3 linked regions of the Homo sapiens genome follow. The protein of the gene in region 3 purifies or fractionates together with the protein of the main gene of each other region. This does not show direct contact. Each region holds a gene or a part of one and is shown on either strand. Other genes may lie near its edges.

Region 1 (3,748 bases), on a different chromosome or scaffold from region 3:
CAGGACGGAGATGGATAGAATGAGCAATTTCTCCACACCTTCAACACCCCCCCCCAGACCCCCAGCAAACCCGCACATTTAGGGAGATTGAGGTCCTGTGAATAATATAAAGAATACTTCCACCCAGATTTCCTGACCAAAAACCCCTTTGCTGGCTGTGCAGTTCCCTCCCTCCCCCACCATATCTCACCAATGACATAGGAGAGGATGAGGTTCCAGCCAGTGGTGAAGGCCCAGAGTTCACCCACAGTGACATAGCTGTAGAGATATGCCGAACCAGAACGGGGAACCCGGGCACCAAACTCCGCATAGCACAGCCCAGCCAACACAGAAGACAGGGCAGCCACCAAAAAGCAGATCACAATGGATGGCCCTGCTTTATCTTTGGCCACCTCGCCAGCTAGGACATACACGCCTGCACCCAATGTGCTGCCCACACCCAGGGCCACTAAATCCAGGGTGCTTAGGCATCTGGCAAGGCGAGTCTCAGCCATGCCTGACTCCAGTGTACGTCTGCGTACCAGCTTTTGACCAAATCTGCGAAATGCTTGCCACGGCATCCTAGCAGGAATTGAAGAAGATGATCTGGTGAAAAACAAGACAAAAACCCCTCGACAGGGCTCATTATCCCTAAACTCTGAAAGCGAATTACAAGACCCCCTCCACCAAGCAAAGGAGCTATTGGGAAATGAGGACGGGGATATGGAAGGGACAAAGGCAAGTCACTTTACCTCTAACCTCAGTTTCTTCATAAACAAGTAGGAATTACAATACCTTACAAGGTTTTTGGAAGGGCTAATTTCAGAAATGGCACGTGAAAGCCCCCTGAAGTAGAGTGGCTGGCGCCTAGTAAGTGCTCAATCAATATTAGGTCTCTTTCTCTTGCCAGAAACTGATAGGGTTTATCCTAATCTCAACCCAGGAATCTTGAAACCTAATGTGTCAGTTCCTTGGCCTGTGGCTATTTGGGAATTAAACAGAGCTCCACCCAGGGGCTTCCCCCGGGGCTTCAAACAGACACAGCCCCCAGACCCCCCAGAGGGAGAGGGGACCAACCTCGCTGCAGATTAAAAGTGAGCACCGACTCAATTCCATCCCTCCTCACCAAGCCCACACTGCTCAACTAGCGCAGCTGTCGCCCAGGGGAGTAAGCAAATGTTCCCCTACTTCCTCCCAAGCCCTGCTAGGCTGACCTGCAAGCATCAACAGCGAGGCGGGGCTTCGACATCTAAAGATTTGGAGATGCGCCCCCAGAGGGGCCCCAGGGCAGCCCGAGATTGCTCGCACTCTCCTCTCAGCAGAGAGGAAGGGTTCCACCCGATGCCCCCCGACTCAGGTCCCAGATTTTCCTGCCCCCATCTAGAAATGGTTTGGAGCTGGGGTGGAGACGGGAGCCCTAACTCCCGGGGCGGGGGTCTCGCCAGCAACAGGTCACGGCCCCGTTGATGCAACTGCATGCCATGGTTGCCAGAGAATCCTAGGTACGCCCGGACCCTCGCCGTCCCCCCTCCGACACACGTGTGGGTCCCCAACGCTTACCAGAGAGCTGTTGCAAACCTAGGGAGCACAGAGTCTTGGACTGGGCTCGGTGAGGCGGAGTTAAGCCGAGTTGGGTTGGAGCTGCCGAGTTCGGCCGCTCAGGCTTCAAAGCTGCGGCTTGGGGTCGTTGCGCGCCAAGCGCCCCTTATATACACCAGGAGGCGGAGCCGGTAACGTCATGGGATCCCACCCCCAATCCTCCTCGCTACACACAATACACACACACACACACACACACACACACACACACACACACAACACACACACTTCTTGGCTTTGCAAAAGGATTGCGTGGGGCCTGAGACTGCGTCCCATCCTCACTAGCAAGCCTGGCGTGCCGGGGAGCGAGAAAAGGGGGAGGGCAGTCTTTTCCCATTTGTCTCGCTGGTCGTCAGAACAGGACAATAAGAGGCTTCCTGGCCAAAGAACCCATGAGATTTTCCACCTCTGTGCCCTGTTAGGACCAGTGATTCTGGGCAGGAATGGGGAAGGTAGGTGGGGTGTGATGGGGGGGAGTTGGGTGCGTGTGTGTGTGTGTGTGTGTGTGTGTGTGTGTGTGTGTGTCAGGAGTGAAGCGGAACACAGCAGGGGAGTCTCCACCTCACTCTCAGTCTTTCTTCCTTAGCTTTCTTGTCTACACATCTGACCCTGACCCTTCAGCTCTCACGCTCAGCTGTGGGTGTTTCTAATGCAGGCAGCAGGAGAATGGAAGATGATTTCAAGCCACCTGTATACAGATAATTAATCCAGTCTAAATTGATTTATAGGCCCCAATCTCTCTATAATGTGTCTCCAGCTGCCTATAAATATTAAACTATTAAATGTGAAATTCTGACAATACCAACATCTTGGAGGAGGAAGCTTGTTTAGTTCCATTTTATTGATGTGTAAGCTGAGGCTCAGAGGCATGACTTGTTTGACACCACACCATAATTATTGTTGACCACCTTTGATAAAACCTGGCCTGTTGGACTTCAATGCCTGCCTCCCGTAGGCACCATATCTTATTCAAATGAACAAGAAGAGGGATGTGGCCACAAGGAAAGACAAACAGGGAGAGGCATCAGCAGCAGGGTAGGTCCGTTTAGGCTAGGAGATACTAGGAAACAGAAAAGGACCCGAAGAATCTACGAATGATCACATTGGGTCAGATCCATAATCCATCTGACCCAATCAATTCTTACTCATAAGAAAGCACCAAAGGTTGTGAAAGTGTGGTCCCTGCTCCACCAAGACATCTTGGGGACTAAGGATGGACTCAAATATCCTTGCTTCTTTTAATGATCCATGATGAATATATTACCCATGAATCTAAAATCTAAATCCGTTCTGAAAGAATTGGTATTTTCAACCAGCTGCAGCTCCATTTGGCATTCATTAAGTATTTATTGAGCATTTATTGAGCACTATGTGTAGTAGCTGGTACAGCAATGAAGAGACTATGAAGGAAACATAAAATAAAATCCTTGCCCTCCTAGTCCTAATCTAACTAGGGAAAGAAAACACACACTATACAACTGAAACCTTATTACATAGACGTTAGGAGTGCTGTGTTTGGAATTGCACCTAGGTTAAACTCACAGCTCAGCCACTGTGGATTACCTAACATCCCTGAGCCTCAGTTTCTGGACATAATATACATATTTCACAAGGTTGTTGTGATGCTTAGATGAGATTATGAAGTCAAGTCTTCCTGCCTGGCACATGGAAAGTACTCAAGAAAAACTTGATACATATTTGGAACGATATATTAGTGTATATGATCTGGTTGCTTAGATTAGGTGATTGATTGGATTATGAGATTGATTATTTATCACAGAGATAAAATCCAAATGCCATGAAATCCAGTCTTTTAAAGAGTACAATTCAATAGGATTTAGTATACAGTCACAGAGTTGTGTATCCATCACTACAATCAGTTTTAGAACATTTCATCATTCCAAAAAGAAACCCTGTACCCATTCCCAGACACTCCCCATTTTCTCCCAATCCCCTCACCGTATCCCTAGGCAACCACAAATCAATTTTTTTGCCTCTGTAAATTTGCCTAGATGTTGGTCAAAGGATGTAGAGTTTCAGTTATGCAAGATGACTAAGTTCTGGGGATCTAACGTGCAGCATGGTCATTATAGTTATAACACTGTATTATGCTTGATACAGTTAATAGTATTGTATATTCATGTATATACTTGAAATTTGCTGAGAATAG
Region 2 (3,748 bases), on a different chromosome or scaffold from region 3:
AGAACAAGGAGAAGAATAGTGCTAGAGTATGGGGTGAAATGTCAGTTTTTAATTCCATAGGAATGGACAATAAAAACAAAAATTTTATGTTTAAATGGTTTTACCTGAAATTATATGACTAGAGCATGTTTCTCTTTAAGGATTATTTTAAAGGACATCTAATCACCTCCCACAAGGTGTCTCCCCAAACACGTGAGGATTACAGTCTGGATTACAATTCAAGATGAGATTGAGGATTACAATCTGGATTACAATTCAAGATGAGATTATGGGTGGGGTCACAGCCAAACCATATCAGTGGCACACACCTGTAGTCAGTCCCAGCTATTCAGGAGGCTGAGGCAAGAAGTTCGCTTCAGCATGGGAGGTCTAGGCTGCAGTGAGCCATGATCGCACCACTGCACTACAGCCTGGGTGACAGAGCAAGACCCGTTTCAAAAATAAAAAAAAAAAGAAATATTATATACAAACAACTCCTGGAGGAAGGTGATACAACAATTAAACTTGGGCTACAAAGTCCTGTTACCTGGAAAGCTACACTTTCGCTGGCAAAACTGCCCAGTTGCTAACCCCCTGGGTCATAACCCCACCTAAAGGTCTCTCTATAAGAAGCCCTGCCCAAGTGGCCATATAAAATCATCTCTGTGGCTGGGCATGGTGGCTCATGCCTGTAATCCCAGCACTTTGGGAGGCTGAGGCGGTTGAATCACCTGAAGTCAGGAGTTCAGGACCAGCCTGGCCAACATGGTGAAACCCCGTCTCTACTAAAAATACAAAAAAATTAGCCGGGCATGGTGGTGGGTGCCTGTAATCCCAGCTACTCGGGAGGCTGAGGCATGAGAATCACGTGAAAGGCGGGGGTTGCAGTGAGCCAAGATCGCACCACTACACTCCAACCGTGCACCACAGCGAGACCCCATCTCAAAAAAAATAATAATAATAATAATAAAATCATCTCTGCCCCAAAGCTATTTCCTCAGATGCAAACATTTTCCTTGACCATAGCCAATTAACCTCTCAACATCTAATCCACCTCCCTTTGGAACTGGCTGATACCTTGAGAAACCTTTCTTCTCCACAGAGGGTCTGCCAGTTCAGATGCTGAAAAGTTTTTCTATCTGGAGAAACCCATAAGCCATACTATTAGACCTATGCCCCAAAGAGCTAAGCTAAGTTAAACACACAGTGTTTACAAATGAGCAGCTGAAAAGGCACACAAGCTTAAGTTGCAGAAGACACACACTTGATTTTCCTTGCTATGGAGGGCCCTTTAGAACATTCCCTACAAAGTTATTTTAGAATGTGAAGAGACAGCTGGGAGCGGTGGCTTGAGCCTCTAATCCCAGTACTTTGGGAGGCCAAGGCGGGCAGATTGCTTGAGCCCAGGAGTTTGAGACTAGCCTGGGCAACATAGTGAAGCCCTGGTCTCTACAAAAAATAGAAAAAAAATTAGCCGGGTTTGGTGGCATGCGCCTAGACCCAGCTACTGGGAGGCTAAGGTGGGAGGGATGGCTTGAGCCTGGGAGGCAGGGGTTGCATTGAGCTATGATCGTGTCACCACTGCACTCCAGCCTGGGCTACAGAGCCAGACCCTGTCTCAAAAAAAAAAGAATGTGAAGAGACAGAGAACTGAATGCAAAGACCCTAACTCAATAAAACTTTGTTTTCTTCACATGCAAAACAATCAGAAATGCTCTTTGTTTTGTAATCTGGCCACCAGCCACTAGGCCCATATAGGGGTGGAGGAGCCTAGACCTGCTAATCTCGGCGCATGTGAGTGGGGTTATTGCTGTCCTCTCAACAAGAACCCAGTTTTGAGAGACAGGACTTGCTGGATTTCCTAGGCTGACTAAGAATTCCTAAGCCTAGCTGGGGAAGGTGACTACACCTACCTTTAAATACAGGGCTTATAACTCAGCTCACACCCAACCAATCAGGTAGTAAAGAGGGCTCACTGAAATACAAATTAGGCTAAAAGCAGGAGGTAAAGAAATAGTCAAATCATATATCGCCCGAGAGCACAGGGGGAGGGAAAATGATCGGGATATAAATCCAGGCATTCGAGCCGGGAGGGGCAACCTCGTCTGGGTCCCTCCCATTGTATGGGAGCTCTGTTTTCACTCTATTAAATCTTGCAACTGCACACTCTTCTGGTCTGTGTTTGTTACGGCTCGAGCTGAGCTTTCGCTCACCGTCCACCACTGCTGTTTGCCACCGTTGCAGACCCATCGCTGACTTCCACCCCTCCAGATATGGCAGGGTGTCCGCTGCGTTTCTGATATAGCAAGGCGCCCATTGCCGCTCCCAATCGGGCTAAAGGCTCGCCATTGTTCCTGCATGGCTAAGTGCCCGGGTTCGTCCTAATCCAGCTGAACACTAGTTGCTGGGTTCCACGGTTCTCTTCCATGACCCACGGCTTCTAATAGAGCTATAACACTCACCATGTGGCCCAAGGTTCCATTCCTTGGAATCCGTGAGGCCAAGAACCCCAGGTCAGAGAACAAAAGGCTTGCTGCCATCTTGGGAGCGGCCCACCACTATCTTGGGAGCTCTGAGAACAAAGACCTGTCCGTTAACAGTTTCCCTATACTGATCCAGCTCCTGGAGTATCTGCTCCCTGACATGTCTCTATGTCCAGTCCCCTTGTCAAGATGCATGTAGATGCATTAGACACAACAGATGTCTTTTGATTCTCCATCAAAATCAATAAAACATAAAACATTTGGATAACATAAAAATTGCAGGTGACCTGAATGCCAGTATTGAAAACAGGTCCATTTAAAGCCCAAGTCATGGCAGAGTAGGCTAGGAGGATTCCTTCCTTTTGGCTTCACTTTCAGGGATGGTCATTTTAATTAAGGTGGGGATCATTTTAAAATCACATATAAACACAAACAATATTATTAAATAGTGATTTCTGACATAAATTAGGGAAAAATGTGGTTCACATTTCAGTCAAACAATATTTAATAATTAGCTTTTCCCTGCTTAGCGCCATTTATAAGACAGGCATTTAAGAGTCAAAAAAACAAACAATGTTGCTTTACTCTTAATAGCCAAAAACTGGAAACAACCCCAGCACTTTGGGAGGCCGAGGCGGTTGGATCACCTGAAGTCAGGAGTTTGAGACCAGCCTGGCCAACATGGTGAAACCCATCTCTACTAAAAATACAAAAATTAGCCAGGCATGGTGGCAGGCACCTGTAATCCCATCTACTCTGGAGGCAAAGGCAGGAGAATCATGTGAACCAGGGAGGCGGAAGTTGCAGTGAGCCGAGATCATGCCACAGCACTCCAGCCTGGATGACAGAGTGAGACTCCATCTCAAAAAAAAAAAAAAAAACAAAACAAAAGTTTAGGCCAGGCACGGTGGCTCACACCTGTAATCCTAGCACTTTGGGAGGCCGAGGTGGGCAGATCACTTGAGGTCAGGAGTTCGAGATTAGCCCTGCCATCATGGTGGAACACCATCTCTACTAAAAATACAAAAATTAGCCAGGTGTGGTGACGGGTTCCTGTAATCCTAGCTACTTAGGAGGCTGAGGCAGGAAAATCGCTTGAACTCAGGAGATGGAGGTTGCAGTGAGCCAAGATCAAGCCACTGCACTCCAGCCTGGATGAAAAAGCAAGACTCTGACTCAAAACAAACAAACAAACAAAAAAACCCACCAATCTGTGATATATTCATACAAAGGACTCAATAATAGAAAAGAACAAACTACTACATGTATGAATTTATACATGTATG
Region 3 (3,748 bases):
TTCTTGATTCCATGAATTTGCTTATGAATTTTCCACAGCAGTTAGAAATTGATCAGTTCCATCTCCAGTAGTTACAGACTGGGAAAGTGACATCTACCAATATATTCCTTCAATATATTTTATGGAATATATCCCATAAAAACAATACTGTGCCAAAGAATTTCTAGGTCCAGAAGCAGTCTTTTTAATAAAATTTTGCCTTTATGGAAAAAATCAAACTTTCTCATAAGGCTTCTCTGTGAATTTCAAAAGGGTCCTACATCCATGTACTCCATTTCAGCCATGAATTTCTTCTGTTCATTGCAGAATGCTTGCCACTGGTGTATGTTTACAATGTTTTCCATTGGATCTGCACAGGAAATTAATCAGGCGCCATTTGTATTGAGCATGATGTAGACAAGAACATGTCATTAATATACTCATCCTAGTTATACTGAAGAACCTAAGACATGAACAAACCTATCGAGCTCAATTGTTGAGGCCACACACTATGCTAAGTGCGGAAATGACTATAAAGACAGCAATGAGCACTTTGTTGCTCAGCCTCTCAATTTTGAGTCACCAAGAAAGGATACTTTACCTCTGCATGATTTGAACTTATATTAAGAAAACCTACTTACTGTAAAATCCCCGTGTTATGTACCTCTACAGTGTTCTTTTGTAAGAATGCTTATATAGATTTTACCAAAGAAACAATTTCAGATAAATTATCATAATACTATCTTCAAGCAACATTACTCTAGAAATTAGCTTCATCAGCTTTATTCCTGCATATTCAAGGAAATTCAGTTAAAGCGAAAACGCAAAACAGAGAGAGTATTTGAAGGCAGAACAACTAGTTCCACTTCTGCATATTAAGCAAAATTAAGCAAAAATAAAGGAAACAGGCAAAGGGAAGGAACTCAAGAGCTATTTGCAGCAGTGATCCGTTACAAGTTCTACGCGCTTCTCCTCGAGCTCCAAGAGATAAGGAGGGGAAAGGAAAGAAGGCACCACGCAGAAGCCTAAACTTACTCTTGGTACAACTTAGAATATTCACTGAATTCAGCCTAAGATGTCTGGGTTATCTGGATTCAGTAGGAATGTCTGGGAAGAAGGAGTGGCATTTGCTTTCTCCGTTTGAAACCCTGGGAGCTGTACGAGAGTACCCCAAACCCCTTGGTTATCTTGCAGAGGCGGCTCAGGGCATCGTTCCCCAAGCACACACCTGCAAAGCCGGGCGGCTCCTCCCCTCTTTCCCTCCTGTCCTCAGGGATGGACCAAAGTCCCTCCAGCGCACCGTTAGCCCGAGGGCCACCCGGCTCCCGCAGGCACTACCCAGCCCGGGGTGAAGCCGGAGCGCTCGCCGCCGTCCCGGCTCCGCTTCCCGGAGCCACACAGCGGAGGCGGCGCGCAGCTGAACACCGGCACCACCAGGATGCGCATTACAATAAAACTTGGGGGAGCAAGTCTACACTCGCGCCGACGTGAAGGCACAGCCCCTGACGCGGGCTCGAGGGCCGTCGGCCCGTCCCGCCCCTCCTCGCGGCCGAATGGCAGTAGTCCATACCTGTCCTCGGAGACGCTGATGACGCCCTCCTCTTTGGGCACGATCACGGCCATATTCACCACCTCCTGGGACCCCTCCATCCGCTGCAGCAGGATCGGCTTGCGGGTCAGAGGCTTGGGCTGGATCTCCGCCGCCATCGGAGGAGGGGGCGCGCCTGGGGCGCCGCCGCCAACCGCGCCGCGGGGCCGGGCTGAGGAGACTGCTGGAGCACGGACACAGGTTGAGACAGAGACTCTGGCTGGCCGGAGCGGAACGCCGGAAACCGGCGAGCATAGCCTGGCCGCCTCTCTCGGGAACGACTCCGCGCTCCCTGCTTCAGGCACCAAAACCGCCACGACCTGGGATGCAAGCCGGCGCCACTACAAGAGGAGGGGGCGGAGCGCCGGGGGGCGGAGCCTGTGTGGGCGGGGCCTGCCGCAGGGGGTAGCCGCTGGTGGGCGCGAGGGCGGCTCCACTTCCGGGAGGGTGGTGAAGGAGGAGGGGAAACCTGGAGCAGGAGGCGGGGATCTGGTATCCCAATGCGCGTGCGTCAGTCCCGCAAGCCCATTTTCACCCCTCCCCTCCGCGACTCCCCGGGCGCTGCAGCACCACTAGGACGCATGCGCTTTCCGTTCCTCGCGGTCTTCTCTCTGCCTTACACACCCAAGGGTTAGGCTCCTCCCTCTTTAACCTCCCGTGAACGCGCGTATACACACCCCTGGGGACGCGCTTGCCAGACGCCACGCCCCTTCGAAATTCCCTGAAAAGAGGGCGGAGGTGGGGCGGGGAAAGGAGCGCCTCAGCAAGACCGGAAAGAGAAGAGGCCTGCAGGAAGGAAAGCCGCCCAACTCGTTGGGACGTGACTTGGCATGCGCGCGGGCTACCTGGCCTAGCGGTCTTAACAATGAAGCGCGGCGGGAGGCCGCTTACTGCTCCCAACATGCACCAGGCCCAGGCTGCCGGAGGGAACCCAGTGGCCTCCTGGGAGTCGTAGTTTCTTGGAGCCTCCGCCCCCTTGTCCTGGAATGACCTATCGCCCACTTTCTGCGCTATGGGCCTGAGGAGCTCAGCGGCCTCCAGGGCCATTGGCCAAGTCAGGACCCAGACTTGCCTCTATGGGAACTGAGGGGCAGCCCCCAGCTGAGTAGGACGTCACCACTCCTAGGGTCAGACTGATGCTCGGAATAGTGGCACGGAAGGGACATGAAAAGGAGAGAATCTTTCATACAGACATCTTCAAGGGAGCTCAGAGAACATATGGGGTGTCTATCCCCTCGTTTTCTTAGATGGCTAAATTACACAGCCAAGGTTACTTTAGTGCAAAGTTAGGGCTAAACAACCCCTCCTTCCCTCCAGACTTGAACCCAGGCCCCTAGTGCTGGCTTCTTTCCATTTCCCCAGCAATCCAGCCTTTTTAGCTTGCTCCAGACACAACGGACAGAGTTACTGTAGTTACTGACTGAATGTTAGGTGCCTACCAGAAGGCCTGGCATGTGGGGTTGATCGTGAAGACTAAGCTCTGCTTTTTTATCTTGCCCAAATTCCTATCTAAGGGGTCTGGGGAGTCATGGCCTACAAAAACCATAAATTCTCATCAGATGGGTTTTGACCATGTAGGTCATGACTTACTTTCCAGTCTGACTCTGGCGTAACAAGGAAGAAAATCAAAATGTTTTACCCCAAATTATATTTCCTTGCCATGCCTTAAAATTGCCCTGCAAAGTCTCTTGTGGGAAAAATCCACATTCTATATCCCCTTTCCCCTTTGTTTTCCTTCCTTCCTTCCTACACCCAGGAGATAACCAACTAAGAGCCAGGCACCGTTTTAGGTCTGGTAAGGAACATTTTACAACCTGCTGTCTCTAAAGGCTGCTATCTAAAAGATTCCTCTGCACAATAAAACCTGGTCTCCACAATCCTTTACCTTAACCTGAACATTCCTTTCCGTTGATCCCAGGTCTTCAGATAAACTCAACCAATTGTCAACCAAAAAACGTTTAAATTTACCTATAGCCTTGAAGCCCCCGCTTTAAGTGGTCCCACTTTTCTGAACCAAACCAATGTATTTCTTAAATGTATTTGATTGATGTCTCATGCCTTCTTAAGATATATAAAACTCAGCTGTACCCCGACCACCTTGGGCACATGTTCTCAGGACCTCCTAAGGGCTATGTCACGGGCCACGGTCACTCATATTTGGCTCAGAATAAATCTCTTAAA

Evidence for each region.
Region 1: the proteins of WDFY2 (region 3) and SLC7A3 purify together in Homo sapiens (affinity purification with mass spectrometry; 4 studies listed by BioGRID and IntAct, with this or other methods). This does not show direct contact.
Region 2: the proteins of WDFY2 (region 3) and ERCC6L purify together in Homo sapiens (affinity purification with mass spectrometry; 3 studies listed by BioGRID and IntAct, with this or other methods). This does not show direct contact.

What each region holds. Positions count from the first base shown.
Region 1 is NC_000023.11:70,929,438-70,933,185, forward strand, and holds the start of SLC7A3 (cationic amino acid transporter 3), read right to left. Parts: upstream 1,660-3,748; 5' UTR 1,540-1,659; exon of another isoform or gene 586-1,539; 5' UTR 561-585; coding exon 191-560; intron 1-190. UniProt on the Homo sapiens protein: Uniporter that mediates the uptake of cationic L-amino acids such as L-arginine, L-lysine and L-ornithine. The transport is sodium ions- and pH-independent, moderately trans-stimulated and is mediated by passive diffusion.
Region 2 is NC_000023.11:72,211,347-72,215,094, forward strand, and holds part of ERCC6L (DNA excision repair protein ERCC-6-like), read right to left. Parts: intron 1-3,748. UniProt on the Homo sapiens protein: DNA helicase that acts as a tension sensor that associates with catenated DNA which is stretched under tension until it is resolved during anaphase. Functions as ATP-dependent DNA translocase. Can promote Holliday junction branch migration (in vitro).
Region 3 is NC_000013.11:51,582,626-51,586,373, reverse strand, and holds the start of WDFY2 (WD repeat and FYVE domain-containing protein 2), read right to left. Parts: upstream 1,913-3,748; 5' UTR 1,687-1,912; coding exon 1,550-1,686; intron 1-1,549. UniProt on the Homo sapiens protein: Acts in an adapter protein-like fashion to mediate the interaction between the kinase PRKCZ and its substrate VAMP2 and increases the PRKCZ-dependent phosphorylation of VAMP2.